Regions from separate parts of the Homo sapiens genome. Here all the other regions are linked to region 1. Evidence: fine-mapped expression QTL. A gene starts in region 1. Each other region holds a variant in brackets. All regions are shown on one strand. Distances are between the middles of the regions. Region 1 holds the start of COPG1 (coat protein complex I subunit gamma 1). Region 2 holds the start of HMCES (5-hydroxymethylcytosine binding, ES cell specific). Region 3 has its middle 17 kb from the start of SNORA7B.

Evidence for each region.
Region 2: its variant is fine-mapped to the expression of COPG1 in monocytes after interferon gamma (Fairfax 2014, PIP 0.95).
Region 3: its variant is fine-mapped to the expression of COPG1 in atrial appendage (GTEx, PIP 0.99).

What each region holds. Positions count from the first base shown.
Region 1 is chr3:129,246,012-129,253,539 of GRCh38, forward strand. COPG1 (coat protein complex I subunit gamma 1) reads left to right here and starts at 3,595. Exons shown (of 24, transcript NM_016128.4): 1 at 3,595-3,735; 2 at 4,671-4,723; 3 at 6,270-6,350; 4 at 6,612-6,683; 5 at 6,865-6,944. The coding sequence starts at 3,699. RefSeq lists a cis regulatory region at 1-151.
Region 2 is chr3:129,274,057-129,281,584 of GRCh38, forward strand. COPG1 (coat protein complex I subunit gamma 1) reads left to right here. Exons shown (of 24, transcript NM_016128.4): 22 at 782-920; 23 at 1,138-1,236; 24 at 3,238-3,717. The coding sequence ends at 3,368. HMCES (5-hydroxymethylcytosine binding, ES cell specific) reads left to right here and starts at 4,814. Exons shown (of 7, transcript NM_020187.3): 1 at 4,814-4,849; 2 at 5,654-5,859. The coding sequence starts at 5,677. RefSeq lists silencers at 4,669-5,018, 5,029-5,418 and an enhancer at 5,839-5,968. The variant C/CT (reference allele first, on the strand shown) is at 3,545.
Region 3 is chr3:129,376,295-129,383,822 of GRCh38, forward strand. It overlaps the pseudogene RPL32P3. Among named protein-coding and RNA genes, the nearest start is that of SNORA7B, 17 kb to the right of the region's middle. The variant G/A (reference allele first, on the strand shown) is at 3,422.

The DNA.
Region 1 (7,528 bases):
TGGAAGGTGGTGGTGGTTATAAAGAATCATAAAAATAATCTCTATTGGCCTGGCATGGTGGCTCATGCCTGTAATCCCAACACTTTGGGAGGCCGAGGCGGGAGGATCACTTGAGGTCAGGAGTTCAAGACCAGCCTGGCCAACATGGTGAAACCCCGTCTCCACCAAAAATACAAAAATTAGCTGAGTCTGGTGGCACACGCCTGTAGTCCCAGCTACTAGGGAGGCTGAGGCATGAGAATCGCTTGAACCTGGGAGGCAGAGGTTGCAGTGAGCTGAGATTGCACCACTGCACTCCAGCCTGGGTGACAGAGCTACACTCTGTCTAAAAAAAAAAAAAAAAAGAAGAAGGGGTCTAGACTTAAATAACTCATACAACTCTAAATAAAAAGATAAAATAATTTTAAAACGAGCAAGGGATATGAACAGCTATTTTTTCAAAGAAGATGTACAAATGACCAATAAGCACATGAAAAGATGCTCAACATCAGTAGCCATCAGGAAAGTGCAAATTGAAACCTCTTCACACCCACTAGCATGGCTATAATCAAAAAGACAGTAACAAGTGTTGACAAGGATATGAAGAAATTGAAACCCCCATACACTGCTGGTGGGAATGTAAAATGGTGCAGCTGCTTTGGAAAAGCAGTTAGACAGTTCTCAAAAAGTTAAACATAGTTACCATATGACCTAGTAATACCACTCTTAGGTATAGACCCAAGAGAAGTTAAAACATAGGGTTGCACAAAAGCTTGTACATTAATGTTCACAGCATTCACAGCTTTGTTCACAAGAGCTAGACTGGAAACAAGCCAAATGTCCATCAACTGATTAACAAACAAAATATAGTAAATCCATAAAATGGAATATTATCCAGCTACAAAAGGAATGAAGTACTGATTCATGCTATAACATGTCTTGAAAACATGCTAAATGAAAGAAGCAAAACACACAAAAGACTACATAGCATATGATTCTGTTTATATGAAATATCCAGAACATGCAAATCTATAGACAGAAAGTAGATTAGTGGTTGCCAGGGGCTGGGCAGATGGGCAAATGGAAAGTGACTGCTAATGAATAGCTTTCTTTTTGGGATGATGAAAATGTTCTCCAATTAGTGCGGACAGGTACATAAACTTTTTTTAATATACTAAAACCCACTGAATTGTACACCTATTTATATATGCATGTGTGTGTGTGTGTGTGTGTGTGTGTATATATATATATATGTATATACACTTTTTTTTTTTGAGACAGAGTCTCGCCCGTCACCCAGGCTGGAGTGCAATGGCACGATCTTGGCTCAGGGCAACCTCCACCTCCTGAGCAATTCTCCTGCCTCAGCCTCCCGAGTAGCTGGGATTACAGGCATCTGCCACCATGCCCAGTGAATTTTTATATTTTTAGTAGAGACGGGGTTTCACCATGTTGGTCAGGTTGGTCTCAAACTCTTGACCTCAGGTGATTCACCCTCCTCAGCCTCCCAAGTGCTGGAGGCGTGAGCCACCTCGCCTGGCCACCCCTATGTATTTTTTGAGACAGGGTCTTGCTCTGTTGCCCACGCTGGAAGTACAGAGGCATGATCATGGCTCACTGCAGCCTTGACCTCCCAGGCTTAAGCAATCCTCCCATCTCAGACTCCTGGAGTAGCTGAGACAAGATAAAAATCAGTTTAGTCCTCAGATGTACCATAACTTCCTTAATCATCCCTTTATTGATAGACATTTAGGGTGTTTACAATTATTTTGCTGCAAACTGCTGCAGCAGGCAACTTCATTTTCTTTTTTCTTTTTTTTGAGACAGTTTCGCTTTTGTTGCCCAGACTCCAGGCTGGAGTGCAACGGCGTGATCTCAGCTCACTGCAGCCTCCGCCTCCCAGGTTCAAACGATTCTCCTGCCTCAGCCTCCCGAGTAGCTGGGATTACAGGTATGCACCACCACGCCAGGCTAATTTTTTTTTTTTTTGTATTTAGTAGAGATGGGGTTTCACCATGTTGGTCAGGCTGCTCTCAAACTCCTGACCTCAGGTGATCCACCTGCCTCAGCCTTCCAAAGTGCTGGGATTACAGGCTTGAGACACTGCGCCCGGCCTCATTTTCTTCTTTTGAACAATTTCCTCCTGATTAGGGGTGGGGTTACCGATCAGACATTTTGAACATCTTTCTGACTCTTGACAATTTTGCATGTCACAAGATCTGTTGTCCTTGGCCCTAGCCTCTGCAAAGCCAGACCCTAAGGGCTGGCCCCTCTGACATCTCCCTTCCTCCAGCTTTGCGGTCACCCTTTTCACCTGGGGCCTCTGCCTCAGCCTCCTGCCTCTCCTCTCCACAGCCCACTCCTTCTCCTGCCCACAGGCCTGCGGGCTTCCCCTCCCCAGGCAAGCTGGGGCCGTGTCGCAGCGCTTGGCCATCACGACTTTGCCATTGCCAATGCAATCTGGCTCACTGGCATGCACTGTGCTTACCTTAGCCTCAGGGTGTCCTGCATAGGTCCCCAGGAAGATAAACCCTGGGTGATGTGTCATTTTCCCCTTTCCGTTCCTTCCCACGCCCTTCCCCCCACCTCCCCGCGTAGGCAGCGCATCTAGTTGGCACTCCATAAATATCCAAAGTATTTACAAAATAACGTAGAAGTTCTATGCTGTTTAGTTAGATCTCTTAAGGTTGATAATGTACAAGGCAATTTGCATCAGGAGCAGACGAGATAGGGCCCGGCAGATATAAATTAAAAATGCAATTGCACGCATTCATTCAACGAGAACTCACTGAGCAACTACTATGTGCCAACATTATCCACTGCAGTGAATAAAAGACAAACAAACAAGCAAATAACAAAAAAAAAAACAAAAGAGCAAGAAAGTGGCCGGGTGCAGTGGCTCACCGCTGTAATCCCAGCACTTTGGAAGGTCGAGAAAGGAGGATCGCTTGAGGCCACGAGTTCAAGACCAGACTGGGCAACATCATAGTGAGACCTCGTCTCTACAAAAATTAAAAAATTAGTCGGGGGTGGTGCGCCCAGCTCTACTCGGGAGGCTGAGGTGGGAGGATCGCTTGAGCCCAGGAACTGTAGGCTGCAGTGAGCCAGGATCGCACAACTGCACCACAGCCTGGGCAGCAGAACGAGAAATAAATAAACAAATAAAAGCCAGAAAGTAAAAATAAAGTGTTAGATGGCGATTCGAGCTGAGGAGGAAATCAGGCAGGGGAAAGAATCTGAAAGCGAGGAGTGAGTGGCTGGCAAGGCTCCTTCGGAAGGTGGCAATAACAGTCATAGACCGGTCACATCAATTGGGTGTTTACTGCGGGCCAGTGTGTGCCACCAACCTCACACCCGAAAGCCACAAAGACTCACGCCACAACGCAACGAGGCAGGGGCTCCTCCTCCTCCCTTGGTATACGGAAAGAAGCGTAGGGAGCAGAGTTGGGATGCTAGTCAGTACCCCCCTGCACCTAGCCCTTGCCCCTCCGTCTGGCTTTCCCCACTCCCGCTCCGGCGGAGCTAAGGTTAACATTAGACGAGGCTGTGGCTACCGGAAAGAGCGCAGGCGCAGAGCGCGGAATGCGCCTGCGCAGAGCGCTGGGCGACGTGGCCAGTCGGGGCCCGGAAGTGGTCCCTGTAGAACCACTGTGGCACCGCTACTCCGTGCCGCGCCCGTCGAGCATTGCGTTGCTGCATTGCGCCCCACCGACTCCACTATGTTGAAGAAATTCGACAAGAAGGATGAGGAGTCAGGTGAGGGGGCCAGGCCTGGGTCTGAGGGAGGCCGGACCCCCACCCGCCGAGCTTTCCTTCTGGTTCTCTGTCCTGACCCGGAGGCTGAGGCCCAGTGAGGGGCAGGGGCTTGTGCCAGGGTCCACAGCTAGTCAGTGGCAGGCCTCGGAGAGCCCGAGCATGCGCGGCTGTCTCACTCTTGTAAGCTCGGACTGCAATTTTCTGGGTGACCTTGGGCGCGACAAACACCCCCCCCCCCAGGCCTCAATTTACCCATCTGTCAAAGGAGGGGACCATGCCGAATGTTCTCTTGTTACTTTCTTCGTCCAACCTCTTGGGATTCGCTGGGGCTACGTTGGTGCTGGCCAAACTGGGGTGTAACCTGCGGAGCCAGCGTCCTGTGACTGGGAACTCTGACCCCATCATTCATTTATTCAGCAAAGTATATTGAGCAGTTACTGTATGCCAGGTACTGTACGGTGTCCTGGATACTGCAACAGAGCAAGTGGGACACTCAGTGCCTGAGCTAGGAATATTAGAATGGTTGCACCCACGATGGAGGAGGCAGACATCAACCAGATAATCACACGTGTAATTATTTGCAAATGTGTCATCTGCTATGAAGGAACTAGTTACAACGAGATGGTGGTCCCTGGCACATAGGGACTTAGTTAATTACAAGTTATATAAATGAACACAAGACATGGCACCATGAGAAGCACAGGACTGTACCAGGGCTGCTGGGAGATTGTGAGTGGTTTGGGGTAGAGTGGAGCCCACCTGCTTGCAGGAGACTAGTAGGATCCCTAGACAGATTGTAGAGGCTTGATTGCCATTCCTGAGGAGTTTGAACTTTACTAGATTTCCTAGGAAGGGACATCTTCCCTTTACCTATGTCTGGGAGAGTTTTGAAGTTCAGAGTCACAACCTACCTTCTCCATTGTCCTTGACCGTAGGTGGAGGCTCCAACCCATTCCAGCACCTTGAGAAGAGTGCGGTACTCCAGGAGGCAAGTGACATTTGCTCCCCTCTAGCTTCCATCATAAATATTCACCACCAATGCAACTGAAATACCAACACATTCAAAGTGTTGTTTTAAAGAGCAACACGGGAGAAAACTTGTGCCTGGAAGTTTTCTGGAAGACAGGAAAACTTTGTTTCTGGAGAGAGTTAGTTATGCTTACTTCTTTTTTTTTTTTTTTTTTTTTTTTTTTCTGAGACAGAGTCTTGCTCTGTCGCTCAGGCTGGAGTGCAGTGGCGTGATCTCGGCTCACTGCAAGCTCCGCCTTCCAGGTTCACGCCATTCTCCTGCCTCAGCCTCCCAAGTAGCTGGGACTACAGACGCCCGCCACCACACCCGGCTAATTTTTTGTATTTTTAGTAGAGACGGGGTTTCACCGCGTTAGCCAGGACGGTCTTGATCTCCTGACCTCGTGATCCACCCGCCTCGGCCTCCCAAAGTGCTGGGATTACAGGCTTGAGCCACCGCGCCTGGCCTCTCTATTTAAACATTTAAAAAATTTCTCTATTTAAAGTTAATTCCAAAGCTAAGGAAACTGGTTTAAAACTATCACCTAAGCTAGACTGTGGCCATTATGCAGGTAGAGATTTTGCATGACTTGTTTATTTTTATTATATATATTTTTTATATATATATATATATGTATTTTTTTTTAGAAGGCGTCTCACTCTGTTGCTCAGGCTGGAGTGCAGTGGCACGATCTCGGCTCAACTGCAACCTCTGCCTCCTGGGTTCAAGCAATTTTTCTGTCTCAGCCTCCCAAGTAGCCGGGACTACAGGCGCACGCCACTATGCCTGGCTGATTTTTATATTTTTAGTAGAGATGAGGTTTCACGATGTTGGCCAGGCAGGAGAATGGTGTGAATCCTGACCTCTTGATCCTCCCGCCTCGGCCTCCCAAAGTGCTGGGATTATAAGCGTGAGCCACCGCGCCCGGCCACTTCTCTTTTTTTTTTTGAGATGGAGACTTGCTGGTGTCAGCCTGGGGTGGAGTGCAATGGCATGATCTTGGCTTGCTGCAACCTCCGCCTCCTGGGTTCCAGCAATTCTCCTGCCTCGGCCTCCCGAGTAGCTGAGATTACAGGTGCCCACCACCATGCCTGGCTAAGTTTTGTATTTTTAGTACAGACGGGGTTTCACCATGTTGGCCAGGCTGGTCTCGAACTGACCTCAGGTGATCCACCCGCCTCGGCCTCCCAAAGTGCTAGGATTACAGGTGTGAGCTACTGCGTCCAGCCGCTTCTTTCTTTATTGTTGTCGTTCATTGTTTCTGTTTCCAGTTAGCAGATGGTTGCTAAGTATCTGCTAGTCAATAGGTTAGCACATCCCTAACTAATATTTACACGAGAGTCTAAGAATAATTAGTAGTTGATTAAAGAAAAACAAACCCTTTCCTTATGAAAATAAGCTTGTTGCATACCCAGAAAGCCCTGTTTAGACAAGTCAGTTTACCCTGAGACTTCTCAGACATTGAATATACTTGAAGGGAAATGAACTAGGCTAGAAGGTAACATCTTTGGTCATTTCTTCTTAGGCCCGTGTATTTAATGAAACTCCCATCAACCCTCGGAAATGTGCCCACATCCTCACCAAGATTCTTTATCTCATAAACCAGGTAACAGGGTGAAGCTTGCGGGTAGGGAGAATGGTGCTGGGGGATTGGAGGGGAGTGGACAAATCATGATCACTCTTAGGCTATTGGACAGCCTCTGTGTGGCTGTAGACAACAGCTCAGCTCTGGGTCCCCTCAGCATCCAAGTCTCATATGTTGCCCTTGAGCCTCTTTAGGGTCTGGGGATCTGGTGTGGGCTGATCCTGAAAGAACTGCTGTCTGACCCTCTGTCCCAAGCTGAGACTTCTTTCTTGATTAACACAGGGGGAGCACCTGGGGACCACGGAAGCGACCGAGGCCTTCTTTGCCATGACCAAGCTCTTTCAGTCCAATGATGTAAGTGCCTCAACCCAGCTTTCCTTGAGAGGTGGCAGCTGTAACAAGGTGGTGGGAGGGCCAAAGAGAGCTGGCCCCACCAGTCAGTGTGGGCTGCCTTTGTGGAGACAGGAGGTATCTTCTCCCAACTCTGGCCCTTGGTGAGCCCGGGCTGATAGGGCTTTTCCCACCTATCTCCCAGCCCACACTCCGTCGGATGTGCTACTTGACCATCAAGGAGATGTCTTGCATTGCAGAGGATGTCATCATTGTCACCAGCAGGCAAGTCATGGGGTTGTGGGTGGCTCTTCTGATGGGTTCCATTGACAGACCATTTTTTTCTTGTGTGTACCAGACAGTGAGACTTGGTTGCATATTGCCAGCTGCCCACCCCGTGGCAGCTTCCCTGTTACCACTGCCCACCCCATGGCAGCCTCCAGGTGTGCTGTTTCTATTTTAATTCTCTGACCTTGACTTGGACACAAATGCTTCCTTTTCTTGATTTCTCTTAGTCAACCAAACCAGCTTAGAACTTTCCCAAAGACTTTCTTGAGTATAAAGAGAGAACACAAGAAAAATAAACAAGAGAGTACAAGCGGTATACTGCTTACTAAGTGACTGGTGTCTGCTTTAAGCTAAGCAATTCAGGGACAGATGTGACTAAAGTGTAATCACTGCCCTTAAGAACTGGGGCTCAGTTCTCTTATTTCTTCCTGCCACAGTTTAAGGTTGTGGGGGTCATACATTGATTTGTAGGTTCAGTTAGAAAATATTGTCTGTCAGTCCCTGTGTGTAGCTCTGGGGATATAGCAACAAAAAAGATAGACATGGCCTCTGTAGCCCCAGAATTTACAGAGAAATAACCA
Region 2 (7,528 bases), 28 kb after region 1:
ATCCTAGAGTCACAGTTGAGGATGGATGGACCTTCCTTGAGCTGGAAATGACCCCGAGGCAGGAGCTGCTCTAAGACCAAGTGAGCTCCTTGAGAGAGCTGGGTCTGTTTGAGCCCATCCAGAGATGAAGAAAAAAAAAAAAGAGAGAGAGAGCTGGGTCTAAGTTGTATTTATATACACTGTAAACATCCACAGGAGTAGGGCCTCAGTGAAAATCTGATGGGAGAATGAATGGGGAACCTTCATGTAGACTCAGTGGGAGTATTATGTGTCAAGTTCAGGGAAGACACAGCTGAAATGGAGATAGAGATTCAGGATCTGTCAAATCCAGAGGACACAGCTGGGGTAGGAGGTTTCTGCTAGTTTCTGCTGAACTAGAAACAGCTGCTGGTCCTGAAGAGCTCATCATCCCCTAGGAGGGACAGGCATAGGAAGCAGACCTCTGAGAATGCTATGTAATTCCCTGCATGCCAGGTCCTGGAAGCACTGACACTAGGCAGGCTTAGAAGAGATGTGATCTCACAGCAGGCGGCTCTAGGCTGAATTAGTAGATTGGTACTTGGGATTAGGGCGTTTTCTGTTGAAGGGATACCATTTGCCTTTGGGCACCTCAAGGATAGGTACCTGGTCAAGTTGCTCTATGTCCCCAGAGTCTAGCACAGTCCTCAGTGCCGAGCAAGCACCTGTGGAAAGAGTTGCAGGAAGGGATGTGTGGATGAGTTCAGAGCAGAGGCCCGTAGGTGTGTAGATGGGTGCCTGATTTCTACCTCCATCTCTCCAGCTGGAAGATCTGGAAGTTACTGTAGCTGATCACATTCAAAAGGTCATGAAACTGAACTTCGAAGCAGCCTGGGATGAGGTAGGGGATGAATTTGAGAAGGAGGAAACGTTCACCTTGTCTACCATCAAGACACTTGAAGGTAAAATCCTGGGAATGCCATCTCTGGCCTAATTACTGTTCAAGATCTTTGGCTACTATTGAAGTGCTCATCCCTTTTCTCTCCAAGGATCCAGGGCCATGTCTGGAGCACATATGTCAAATGCCACTTCATTAAAAGCCCTTCAGAACATGGGGGAGTGGTGGTGGCACAAAGGGCAGATAAGATGGCTTAACAATATTGGGATTTCTCATTACAGAGGCTGTGGGTAATATTGTGAAGTTCTTGGGAATGCACCCTTGTGAGAGGTCAGACAAAGTGCCGGATAACAAGAACACCCACACGTTGCTCCTGGCTGGTAAGTGGCATTTCTAGATGGGGAGGGCCTGGATAGCTTACAGCCTGGATGCCACTGGATCCTGGGCTAAGGACTCCACTGTAAATATGGGGAGTCAAAATTCACAGCATTTAAAATTCACAAAGTATAAAATAATCTGCAGCGAAATGTTTCCTCCCTACCTTGGCTGCCAGCCATTCAGATTCCCTTCCGAGAAGCGACCAGTGTTACTATTACAAACAATACTTGTATAACCTTGCGGTTATTTTATGGCTATAAAAGCTAATAGGAACGCATTTCCTTTTTTTAACTCAAATGTTTATGTACAAATGGTATATATATTGTCCTCCGATTTGCTTTTCACTTTACATTGCATCTTAGAGATCTTCCCCGTCAATATGTAGAGCTTCCTCATTCTTTTTCTTTTAATTGTGGTAAAATATACATAAAATTCACCATTTCGACCATTTTCAAGTGTATGGTTCAGCGGCATTAAGTACATTCACACTATTGTAAAACTATGACCACCATCCATCTCCAGAACTTTTTTCATCCCAAACTGAATCCTCATTTTTTTTATAGTTGCTTAGTATTCCATTGTGTGGATGCACCACATATTCTATGGAACAGCCACTACTGATGAACATTTAGTTTGATTTCAATCTCTTGCTATTACAGATGTTACAGTAAATAATCGTGTACACACACACACACACACACACACACAGTTTACTTTGCATGTGTACACTGAGAATATCTGTAGGATAAATTTTCCAAGGCATCACCAGTTCAAAGTGATTTGTGTTTCTCATCTTGATAAATAACTCCAAGTTGCCTTCCATAGAATTGTATACCTTTCTTCCTACACTGTGGACAACATAATATGTTACCACACTTTATGATCTTTTCCAGTCTGTGTGGACAATGATATCTTAGTGTAGTTTTTGTATTTTCAATGAAGTTAAGTATCTTCTTAAATGTTGAGGCATTTGTATTTCCTTTTCTGATCATTGTCTTCATATCCTTTGTCTTATTTTCTACAGGGTTGGCTGAGTGTACCCACACTCATTCTCCTTCCCAGATTATTTACTAGCAAACTCCAGAAATAGCATTTTATATGTAAATCCTGTATCTGTATGTTTCTCTAAGAGAGAATGACCCCTTCCCTTTTTTAAAGGACAATACAATTATCATACCTAAAACAGTTAACAAAAGGAAATGGGATGATTTTTTTTGGCTGAGTGTTTATAAACAGGGTTGAAAGGAGGCTCTGCTTCAGTACCCTGCCTACAGCTGACAGTTTGTAGCCACATTGAAACAACCTAGTCCCCTGGGTCTTGCAGACACCTGCCCTGTGGTTTTCTCGTGGTGGGGCTGTCCCCTTCATTTGTGCTCTCAGATTCAGTCAACGTGCAAGAGCCTCTGTGACATGAGATATAAGCCTTTTATGTCCATCAGTTCATTTGAACTTAGCAGAAGCCTGAAATATGGTATTATCATCCCTGCCACTTTGTAGTTGAGGATACTGAAGTCCTGAGAGACAGTGACTTTCTTTTTTTTTTTTTTTTTTGAGACGGAGTCTAGCTCTGTCACCCAGGCTGGCATGCAGTGGCACAATCTCTGCTCGCTGCAACCTCCGCCTCCCGGGTTCAAGCGATTCTCCTGCTTCAGCCTCCCGAGTAGCTGGGATTACAGGCGTCCACCACCATGCCCAGCTAATTTTCGTATTTTTAGTAGAGATGGGGTTTCACTGTGTTGGCCAGGCTGGTCTCGAATTCCTGACCTCATGATCTGCCCACCTCAGCCTCCCAAAGTGCTGGAATTACAAGCGTGAGCCACCGCGCCTGGCTGAGAGACAGTGACTTTCACAGTGAAATCCCTCACTCAGGGATTTCAGCCCAGCTCTCCTGCCCGTTTCACTACACCAGAGCTGCCTTCATGGGTTGCTGCAAATGCCATCCTTAGCCTGCCCTGTACAGTCCCTTCTGCTGTATATATCTGTACTTCTCTCTTCCCTTCTAGGTGTGTTCCGGGGTGGTCATGACATCCTGGTGCGCTCCCGGCTGCTGCTTTTGGACACAGTGACAATGCAGGTGACAGCCAGAAGTTTGGAGGAGCTGCCAGTAGACATCATCTTGGCATCTGTGGGATAAGAGGCCAGCCTGCATAGGACCTCATACCCTTCCCCAACACTACCTGGAAGTTGTGCCTTCCTCATGAAACTGGCAGAAACCCCTTCCCAAGCTTCTGTATTGAAAAACAATTAGGAATCATTGCAGATTTTTTTTTATTCTGCTCCCACCTCCCACCCGGGACTACTTGCTGGTGA[C/CT]TTTTTTTTTTTTTTTTTTTAAATAGGGGATGATTTTAGCTTGTCCTAAATCTTGCTGTCCACCCTTCCAGGAAAGGGACATTGTAAATGAATAAAACATTCTCAACTCCTCTTGAATCTATCCCCCAAGAAACCATCTTATCCCTGTAATAAATCAGCATGTATTTATTGAATGATTGCTACTTCTGCAGACTCATGCTTCAGGGCTCCACCTTCCCCTTCAAGGCCTCCCCTAAAGAGGCAGAACACCTGCCCTGTCCCCCTTGCACCCACAGCCCTTTGGCTGTTGTAGTCCTGTGAGGCAGGACCCTCTCCCCGTCATCGCTGTCCCAGCACCAAGCCCAGGGGTGGGAGCGGTAGAGGGTGGTTGAGTGAATCAGCTAACAGGCAGAGTTCACACTCCCTCCCGTTCGTGCTTCTTCACAACGCATCCTCCTTTGATAGTCGATAAATGGAGGCTCCAAAGGGCTTGGGTCCTGTGTCTGATCGTTCCAGCATCTGGTCTTACATGGAGTGTGCCCTGGGGTTTCTGCTCCCTGTTCAGTTCAGCGAATCAGCATAGGCGAACAGCCCTCTAGAGCATTCTCTGTTGGTTGCAGATGAAGAATCTCCGGTTTAGGTCCCAAGGGGAGCAGGCTTTTAAACTCAAGCCAGGCTATTTTACCAACTTTGAGGCCAAAGTACACCCGAAAGGGCTGTTTTAAAAATCTGGGCCTCACCCTTAGAGATTCAGCTGAGGGGCTGGGGCAGGAAAGGCTTATTCTAGTGCCCACCAATGTTTGAGGGCGAAGTGCGCGATTCCTGGAAGTTCTTCTGACTTTCATTTCTTCAGTGTTCCTCCATTTTTGCCTCGCACTGTGAGGCAGCTGGCAGGACTGTGAAGTAAGGAGTGGAGTTTCCTGGTTTCCCGCCTTCCATGACCCTGTGCCCTAGACTCAGCGCGGCGGGAACCTTCCCTGCCAGCCCTGAAACACGCTGGGGGCGGGGAGGAAGGTTAACCCCGCCAGGGAACGGCCAATATGGAGGAAAGTGGAGTCCCGAGAAGCTTGGGATCGATATGTCTCCCAAGGCAGTCACTGTCTCCTGGGGAAACGGGAGAAAATTCATCCCAAACCGGAGGGGAGAAGACGCCGCCTCCGGGGCCCGAGGGCACCGCGGGAACCAAGGGCCCTTGGGGGCGGGGCCTGGCGCCGGGAGCGCGGGCTGAGGCGGGGCTGACGTGAGGGGCGGTGACGCGGGTGGCCAAAGCGGAGCGGAGCGGGGGTGAGGAGAGTCGAGGGAGGTGACGCGCGCTGCCGGGGCGAGGTGAGGGGAGGGGAGGCGACGCGGGCGGTCGGGGTATGGCGAGGGGAGGGGAGGGGAAAGGAAGCGACGCGAGCTGACAGAGGGGAGCAGAGGCCCGAGCGGACGCGAGGCGACGCGGAGAGGGCGGCCTGGGCCGAAGTGAGGCGACGCGGGGCGGCGGAGTCTGAGGGCCGGAGCGGAGCGGAGGCGACGCGGGGAGGGGCGAGGGATCGCGGCCGGTGGCTGGGGGCCACCTGCTCCCCGAGCACCGGCCCCCGCTCCGGGGAGCAGAGTCCGGAGCGGGATCCGCGGCCCACAGGTTCGCAGGTCGGGCCCGGGGACGCTGCGGACTAGCGGGCGGGAGGCGGGGATTCTGCACCCCGGCCCCGGGCCGTCCAGTGGCCGCCCTCGAGGTGACCGGTTGCTGGCCGGCGTGGGTCGCTGACCCCAGCGGGGACTGGGGGGAAGGACGGGGAGTTGGGGGCACCAAGTCACCCGGAGGAGGCGACCCCAGCTAGCTGCGCTTGCCCTGCTTCGCTGGACTGTGAAGCCCCCTCCGCTGCGGCTCTTCCTGCGCTCAGGCAGGCATTTGCAGAGCTCCTCTCGGGACTTGCCTCAGTGCCCTGCACGGAGCTGGGCAGTGGGCTCAGGGAGCGAAGCAAACGGGCACATCCTTGTCTTTGTGGGACTTTTTGGGGAAGACTTTAGACGGTGGTCACGGAGGGGCACGGCCCTGTGGGAACGGAAAGAGAAGGCGGGGACTCAAGGAATAAGACCTAATATTTGAGATACGTAAGCCTTTTCCTTACGTTTTGTAATTTAAAGGTTGCGAGGGGCGGTGTTGAAGAATGTGTGGGCGAACATCCTGTCACTTACCTAGAGATGTTCTCACGAGAGCTTGCGCCTACCAGGATCGGCGGGGCCAGCAGCGGCTCCCGGAGTGGAGGGACCCTGATAAGTACTGCCCCTCTTACAACAAGAGTCCTCAATCCAACAGCCCAGTGCTTCTGTCTCGACTGCACTTTGAGAAGGTAACCAGCATTGCACTATGCTAGCCCCTCGCCCAGCCTCGTGATGGTCATCTCCTATTTGGTTTGGTGTGTGCTCAGCCTCTTGGGATGACATTAAAAACCAGCCTTTACTGATATATTCTGACTTCCAGTTGAGAACCTCTCTTGGCCTCATGAAAGAAGTTTTATCAGTGGCTTCTAACACTGATAAAGACGTATTTTTCAGGCTCAATTTAAATGCCTTTGCTATACATGGCATACTAGCCTTAATATATGCCAAATTTATATGAGCTTTGTGTTTTAAAATAGCAGCTTTCACTGATCATCAGGGTCATTGGAGTATCTTAAAAATATAATAAAAAAATTTAAGGCCAGGTGCCATGGCTCATGCCTGTAACCCCAGCACTTTGGGAAGCCGAGGTGGGAGGATCACTTGAGCCTAGGAGTTGGAGACCAGCCTGGGCAACATAGGGAGACCCCATCTCTACAAAAAATAAAAAAATGAGGTGGGAAGATCACTTGAGCTGGGGAGGTCGAGGCTTCATGAGCCATGGTTGTACCACTGCACTCCCACCTGGGTGACAGATCAAGACCCTGCCTAAAGAAAAAATTTAAAAAAATAAAAAATTTAAGAATATTTCTATGCCCTTTACCAGGCCAGCTTAATCAGACTTCTCTAGGCCTAGGACAGGCTTAAGATCAGTTAATTTAAAACACTTCTGATGTTTCTTGAGCATTGAAAAGTTTTATTCTTTCTGCTTGTGTTTTCAATCTTTTTGTGTTTGTCTTTTACTAAGGCTAGAAACACGTATTTGGTTTGGTTATCTGAAGTTTAATTGCATTCATTGTGTTTATAGTATTTATCCCTGTAGTGTTGGAATTACCAGTCACTTACATTCATATTTTAGTTTTTTGCCTTATCTCCTGAAAGTGTGTGTGTCTTTGTATGTGTGTGTAATAAAAATGCTTCGTTCTAGAAAGTAATAGTTTCTCCATGTCTTAAATATTTTAAATGACCTTGACATGTTTTTAAAAATCGTGATTGTTGGCTGGGCACGGTGGCCCACGCCTGTAATCCTAGCACTTTGGGAGGTGGAGGCGGGCGGATCACGAGGTCAAGAGATCGAGACCATCCTGGCCAACATGGTGAAACCCTATCTCTACTAAAAATACAAAAATTAGCTGAGTATGGTGGCACGCACCTGTAGTCCCAGTTACTTGGGAGGCTGAGGCAGGAGAATCACTTGAACCTGGGAGGTGGAGGTTGCAGTGAGCTGAGATTGCACCACTGCACTCCAGCCTGGCGGCAGAGCGAGACTCCATCTCAAAAAAAAAAAATTGTGATTGTTTCCTTCCTGAATTTTGACTGTATTTGATTCATAATGCTGAAATCACTTTATAAAGTTGATTATACCTCTGGTACATACTCTTTAAACTTTTGTGATAATATGATAGTCAAAAAGGACTCATTTCTGCATTATAGGGAATCACATCATTTTGAAATAAAGATAACAGGCTGGGCATGGTGGCTCACACCTGTAATCCTAGCACTTTGGGAGGCCAAGACGGCTGGACCACCTGAGGTCAGGAGTTCGAGACCAGCCTGGCCAACATGGTGAAACCCCGTCTCTACTGCAAATACAAAAATTAGCTGGGTGTGATGGCGGGCGCCTGTAATCTCAGCTACTTG
Region 3 (7,528 bases), 130 kb after region 1:
GTCAAGGGCCATGGCCTGACAAAGCCTAAGGAGGTCCTGAGAACATGTGCCCAAGGTGGCTGGGTCACAGCTTGGTTTTTGTTTGTTTGTTTCTTTTTGTTTTTGTTTTTTGAGATGGAGTCTCACTCTGTCGCCCAGGCTGGAGTGCAGTGGCACAATCTCGGCTCACTGCAAGTTCCACCTGCTGGGTTCACGCCATTCTCCTGCCTCAGCCTCCCAAGTAGCTGGGACTACAGGCGGAGTCTCGCTCTGTTGCCCAGGCTGGAGTGCAGTGGTGCGATCTTAGCTCACTGCAAGCTCCGCCTCCAGGGTTCATGCCATTCTCCTGCCTCAGCCTCCCAAGTAGCTGGGACTACAGGCGGAGTCTCGCTCTGTTGCCCAGGCTGGAGTGCAGTGGTGCGATCTTAGCTCACTGCAAGCTCCGCCTCCAGGGTTCATGCCATTCTCCTGCCTCAGCCTCCTGAGTAGCTGGGACTACAGGCGCCTGCCACCACGCCTGGCTAATTTTTTGTATTTTTAGTAGAGACGGGGTTTCACCGTGTTAGCCAGGATGGTCTCAATCTCCTGAACTGATGATCCACCTGCCTCGGCCTCCCAAAGTGCAGGGATTACAGGCATGAGCCACCACTCCCAGCCTAATGTATATGTTTATCATTCAACATTTGTTGAGTAGTAAAAATATGAATCAAATAATGATAATCCTAATGATAACATTATTATTATTATTTTTATTTTTGAGATGGAGTCTCACTGTGTCGCCCAGGCTGGACTGCAGTGGTGTGATTTCAGCTCACTGCAAGCTCCACCTCCTGGGTTCATGCCATTCTCCTGCCTCAGCCTCCTGAGTAGCTGGGACTACAGGTGCCCACCACCATGCTCAGCTAATTTTTTATATTTTTAGTAGAGATGGGGTTTCACCATGTTAGCCAGGATAGTGTCAATCTCCTGACCTCATGATCCACCCACCTCGGCCTCCCAAAGTGCTGGGACTACAGGTGTCAGCCACAGTGCCCAGCCAAGCCCAGGTTCTTTTCATGTAGATGAAGCCTTCAGGTAGCAAACTTCAGAGAGAATAGATGGCAAATGTCTCTTGTCTGACCTTAAAAAGTGTCAGCCTCTCCAGAAAAGACCTAGTAAGAGAAGGAGATTCTCTACAGAATGCAAATTTTCCCACACAAGAGAAAGCTTTGCAGGCCCATTTCAAAATATGTCAACAAAATATATTTTGGGGTAAAATACTTTGATTTCCTTAAGGGCCTACTGTTTCATGATGCTGTCATGAAAAAAAACTAGTTCCAACCATCATGGGCATAAGGAGACCCACAATGGGTAGCTCCTCTCTGTAGGCAGGTGGTCCTGTGGAGTGTTCAGCTCTCAGCAGAGAGGAGGCCCTGGGAGGGTGGCTCCTCTCTGCAGGCAGTTCATCTCATTGTCTCTGCAGCTCTCAGTAGATTGGAGCCCCTGGAGAGGGTAGCTCCACTCTCTACTGGTCGTCCTGACATCTGCCGAACTCCTAGCAGAGAGGAAGCCCTGGAGTGGGTTGCTCCTCTCTGAAGCTGGTAGTCCCAACATCTCTGCAGGCCTGTGAAGCTCTCAGCAGAAAGGGTAGCTCTTCTCTGCAGCTGGTCATCCCATAGTCTGCTTAGCTCTGGCTGAACCTGGGGTTTTTATGGGCCTCAGAGGGGAAAAAGTGTATGCTGATTGGTACTTGGGTGGGCCTGGAAAAGGCACCACAAGTTCCCAGTCCAGTCCATGAGACTGGCAGCCTTGGTTCCCAGCCTTCAGACCCTCCCTGGCCTGAAGGTGGGGCCTCACTGGGGACCGGCCCCCTTCCATCCAGGAATCTGTCTGCCTCCTGCTGCCTTCATGACACCTGAGCTTGGCCCCAACATTCCTCCAAGATTGGAGTGGGCAACAACAGCAGGGAGAAGCCAGGCAATGGGAGCAGGCACTGCTGAGCCTGCAAGGGGAAGGGATGCTTCCTGGCCCTCAAGAGTGCAGGGGTGCCTGAGTCTGCAGCCATGGTTTAGGCAGCTACAGCTGTGCCTGGGAGGGCAGGGATCCTGCTTGCTCCTGGCCTCCCAAGAGCACAGGGAGGCTCAGACCTGCAGCCACAAGTTGGGCAGCTACAGCCCTGCCCCGGAGGGCAGGGCTCCTGCCTGCTCTGTGGAGTGGGAGGCCCAGGTCTGCAACCCAATGGTTTGGGCAGCTGCAGTGGCACCTGGGGAGCTCCCACCCCAACTTGGAAGGGCTTCATGGAGTGTGCAACCCCAGCCACGTCTCCCTGCTGCAGCTGGGAGCTACAGTTGAACAGTTGGCTACATTTCATTGTCCAAAACACAGTGATCTGGAGCAGCCACTGCCATCAATGGTATATCAGAATCATGTTGAAATACGGTGTTCTATTGCTGTTACTGGAAGGAGGGCCTTGGGTGTAAGTTGTCTAGGTTCTTGGTGTTTTGAACAAAAAACTGGACAAAATGCACTAAGTAACAAAGGAATGAAACACAGGATCGAAGTACCAAAATCAGGGATTTATAAAAGAGAGAAGGTACGCCACAGGGTGGGACTGGGCCCGAGCAGCTCAAGGGCCCAGTTACAAAGTTTTCTGGGTTTCAAGCACTCCTTTTGAGGTTCCTATCAGTTACCCCTTATATAGTTGAAGGATTTGGTCTGTGGCTAAGTAAACACTGAGGTGAATGGCACCCTATGCAGATGAAGGGATGGTCCCTGCTTGGCCTGTGGCCACTCCAAGCCACTCTCCCTTTTTGTCTAAGCCATGGTGGAAGGGGGAGGGTTGTAGAAAGAGTAACCTTTGACCCTTTGCTACTAAGGCATGGGGAGCTGGGTTTTTCCTTTCGGTTTAGCTTCAGGAAGTTGGCATTAACTGGCCTTAGGGCCCCTGCCTCCAGACCCAGGTGTTTCCCTTTTGATCCAGCTTTGGGAAGTCAGCACAAATTGGCCTCAGATTCCCTGCTTCCCCCCAGACCTTGGTGTTTTTCCTTGATTCAGCATGAATTGGCCTTAAGTTCCTTGCCTCCAGACTGTACTATCCTGCCTCATTGCTACAGAGTCTGTTTTGTCAGTCTTGAGACCCCAGTTTTCTTGTTAATACTGGTCTATTGTGTCTAAACTCTAAAGGGAGGAGGGTAAAATGAGGCAAGTCTGACCCCTTATGCCCATGATGGTTGGAACTAGTTTTTTAGGGGTTTTTTGGAATTCCCCTTCTCCAAGGGGAGGGGTTCATTCAATGGAGGCACAGAGGGCTTAGAGTTTTACTTTTGGTTTACACAAGCTTAAAGAGAAAAAACTTGCCTTCAATACTAAAACTAAAAGATGGGACTGGAAATTTCAAAGATAAAGACCCCAAACAGAGAAAACAGCACTTCCACATCCACATTTGGGAACCATTAGCACAGAG[G/A]TCCCAGGTGACTGCTCTTTCCTGCCCAGGAAGCCAGGAGAGATGCAGGCCCCCGAAGCACACTGGCTGGCCTAAAACAAGGGCAAGGCCTTTCCTTGTTGAAGATGTCCCGGCCAAACTCAGACTCGTTCTTGTTCCCGCATGACGCAGGAGAATAGGGTCTGGAGGGAGGGAACCTAAGGCCGATTCATGCTGACTTCCTAGAACTGAATCAAAAGGAAAACCTCACCTCTTCACACCCAAGTAACAAAAGGATCAGAGGCTACTCCCTTTGCACTACATAGCAGATAAAAAATAAAAAAGTACCTCTGATTGGTCCCCTCCTGCAACCAATCACAATGGTTGTGGACCATTCCTTCATTTACGTAGGGTATAACAAAGTAACCAATGGGAAACCTCTGGAAGGTACTCAAACCCTAGAAGATTTTGCAACTGGTGCTCTTGAGCCACTTCCTCAAGCCTGCTGTCACTCTGTGGAGTGTACTTTGGTTTCAATAAATCTGTGCTTTTGTTGCTTCATTCCTTCACTGCTTTGTGTGTTTTGTTCAATTCTTTGTTGAAAACACCAAGAACCTGATGGCTTGTGGTCAAGACCCTCCACCAGTAACATGTACACACATATGCACATATACACATGACCACATACGTGGCAGGAAGGGGCACAGAACCTGGAGTCAAGTCACCTCTGGCTATTGCCAGCTATTTGCTGGGACAGGTCAGTTGTCCTCTCTGAGTCTCGGTCTCCTGGGCTGTAGCCAGGGAGAAATAATATCTACTGTACAGGACTATGGGGACAGCCAAAAGCCCTTTATAAACCTAAGAAAGAGAAGTCGTTAGGAACTATTCATGGGCACTCACAGCAAGGCAACCCCATCTTGTAGGATGGCATCTGTCCCCAGGGCAGGGAGCAGGAGACCTGTTTCCAGGGGTTTCCAGGGTAACTTGGAGCAAATCACTTACCTTTCTTGGACTCAGTCCCTGGAAGAAGAGGCCATCCCAGACCCCTTCCTCCCAGGAACTCATTCATTCTGTCAGCAAACATAGACTGGGGGCCTGCCAAAGGTGGCGGGTACAACCCATCACTGCCCATGGGCTATGCACCGCCTTGCTGTAGGAACAGGCCTATAACTGCATCACAACCCGAAATCTGGACAAAGGGCAGAGGAAGCTGAGACTCCTTCCCCTGGGGTGGGGGCTTGAGGGGCTCAGGAGGACTCTCCAGAAGAGGTGACATTTCAACAGGGCCTTGAAAGCCAAATAGGTATTTTTCAGAGGGAGAGTGGGGAGGGGCAAAGGCATTCCAGACGAGGGTAACATCCTATGGTGAGGCAGGCCTGCAGGTGGGAAGGAGGGGAGGATGGGCAGAGTTTGTGCTGTGGAGCACAGTAGCCCAGTCATGAGAGAGGTGCAGGACGGAGCACACAGGGTGGGCTGGGCAGGCTGGGCAGGGTGCTGATTGGCGGCTGCAGGGCTGCTCCCCAGGCATGGGTAATCGTCCCACGCATCTGGAGGCAGGCTCTGTATGCATCTGGTTCTTTCCATGGCCCTGAAAACAGTCTTTTTTTCCCTTGATGAAATCCTGCAGTCTGCTCCCATGTACCAGTACCTGGATAGGAAACTGTTCAAGGAAGCCTACCAGATTGCTTGCTTGGGTGTCACAGACACTGATTGGCGTGCACTGGCCATGGAAGCGCTAGGTTTAGATTTTGAAACAGCAAAGAAGGTAAGCATCTAGCCAGCAGGAGCTGGAGTTTGGTCCTTGTGGGGTCCCTTAAGAAGGCAGATGGGGACGCAGGTGGCACGGAGAGGCCATAGACTGCAGCAGTCTCTGGAGTTAGGCTGACCTGGGCTTGTATCTTAGCCACTTCCTCACTGTGGGCCTGGGTAGGTGACACCCTTTCTAAGATTGCTTCTCTATAGACGTAGGGTGATGACAGGCCCCATCCTCACAAAGCTGTGAGGATCAAATGGGAGGATGCCTGTAAAGCCTGACCCAGGAGCAGCATGTCAGATTCTGGCTGTCACTCTTATTAGCTGTTCTCTATGGGAAGCACCTGACTAGTAGCCTGGCACATCACAGGCACTCCGTAAATGGCGGCTTTTATTATCGGTGTAGTCACTGGCCATGATGCTGCACACAATGCTGCTTTTCTTAGCATCTGCCAACTAAGGTGGGAGAGATGGTCAAGGTCTCTGATTCTGACAGCAATGTGGGCACTTCCCACGTACCTTCATGGCGGGATTCATGGACTTGATTCGTTGTGTCCTTTCCTGGCCTAGTCTATGAAAGCTAGAGAGATGGCTGAAAACATCTGACCCCTCTCTGCACATAAGGAAAGGCCCAGGTATGTTCCTGAGCTGTGTTTCCATCTAGAACCTCAGATGGAGGAAGGAATGGCTTCCAACCTCCACTCCCCTACCCCTTCCCTCTTTATCTCCCCACAGTCAATTAAGGAGCTGCTCATTTTGTCCATATTCCTGGGCTGACATTGAAGGAGTGGCAAAGAGGGACGTGATGCCCGCCTTGGGTTAGATCAAGACTTGTAGGCATGAAGAGAGGAGACTGGACCAGACCAGGACTCAGAAGCCGGCTGAGAGCCAGCTGTGTCACGTAAGGGGCTCTGGGACCTCAGGCCAGCGGCTTCCCTCAGAGCCCCGGTCCTCCCAGTTCTGAAATGGGGGTAGTGAGAATGCCCACTGCAGTCACAAGGCTTAACTGAGATGTTGTAAAGGGGAATTTAAAGCAGGGATGGTTGTGCAGATGCTAGCCATTACTTGAACATTGTTACACAATGATCAAGATTATATTTTTAGATGTCCCCAGTGTAGGAAAGTGGAGATGGAGGAAGCTGTAAGATTCAGAGGAGGGAGGAGGCATCCCCATGGAGGGAGCTTCCCTCTCCTGCCCCACCCAGAAATGCCAGCAGGGAGGAAGATGACAAATCCCCAGAATAGGTGTTGTTTTGGGCACAGAATGAAATTAAGAACCTTCCCTCTAGATTGTCACCTCCTTACACCCAGGAACCAAACACGTACCTCATCTTAATAACACTGCACACTGCCTAGCACAGTGCCTTAGACAGGTTGGTGCTCAACAAATATTTGAATGGATAACAACTAAGTTTATTCGTTCATTTATTTAACTCCCCAGCCTGTATCACCAAAACACTCCCTGAGAATTGAAAGGGTGTATTAAAGCCACAAGATTTAAAAAATAACACTGTTCATTGATTTATTTAAATTAAAAAATAATTGTATATGGTAAATATCTATTAAGTACAACATGGGACAGGCACGGTGCCTCATGCCTGTAATCCCAGTTCTTTGGGAGGCCGAGACAGGCAGATCAGTTGAGGCCAGGAGTTTAAGACCAGCCTGGCCAAAGTAAAACCCTGACTCTACTAAAAAAATACAAAACTTAGCTGGGTGTGGTGGCGCATGCCTGTAGTCCCAGCTACTTGGGAGGCTGGGGCAGAATTGCTTGAACCAGGGAGACAGAGGCTACAGTGAGCCGAGATCATGCCACTGCATTCCAGCCTTGGTGACACAGCAAGACTCTGTCAAAAACACAAAAAAATCAGTACAATATGATGTTTTGAAAAAGCTGGATGATTTTGACAATAGGGTAGGAGTTGCTATTTCATCTAAATCCTGTATCCCCCCCCTTTCTTTCCCTCTGTGACAGGCACTCAGGCTCACCAGTTTGCACAGGGTGGTCCCCAGTGATGGTATGCCATCCCCACTAGATGGCAGAGAAGAGCTGCTGAGCTCTGGCCAGGCCATGAGTAGAGCTGCAGGTGCCTCCCTGTTCCCAGGCTTCCCTCTACTGAGCTCATTCAGGGGCCTTCTGACCACTCTGAACAGCTGCCGTGATGCTGCAGGATGCATCAGGTTGAAGGAACTTGGAAACAGATTTCTCAGTGGGCAAATCCTAGACTCCAGCACAGCCGACCTAGAGCTGGAAAGACCCTTGAGAGGGTGTCACTAGCAGCCCCCTTTCCACAAAGATGGCTGGAGCCCAGAAGCAGAGAAGTAGGCTCAGAGCGAGGACTGAGACCTCGAATGCTCCTTTCCCTCTCGGCCACTGTGCCGTGCTTTGCAGGGTTG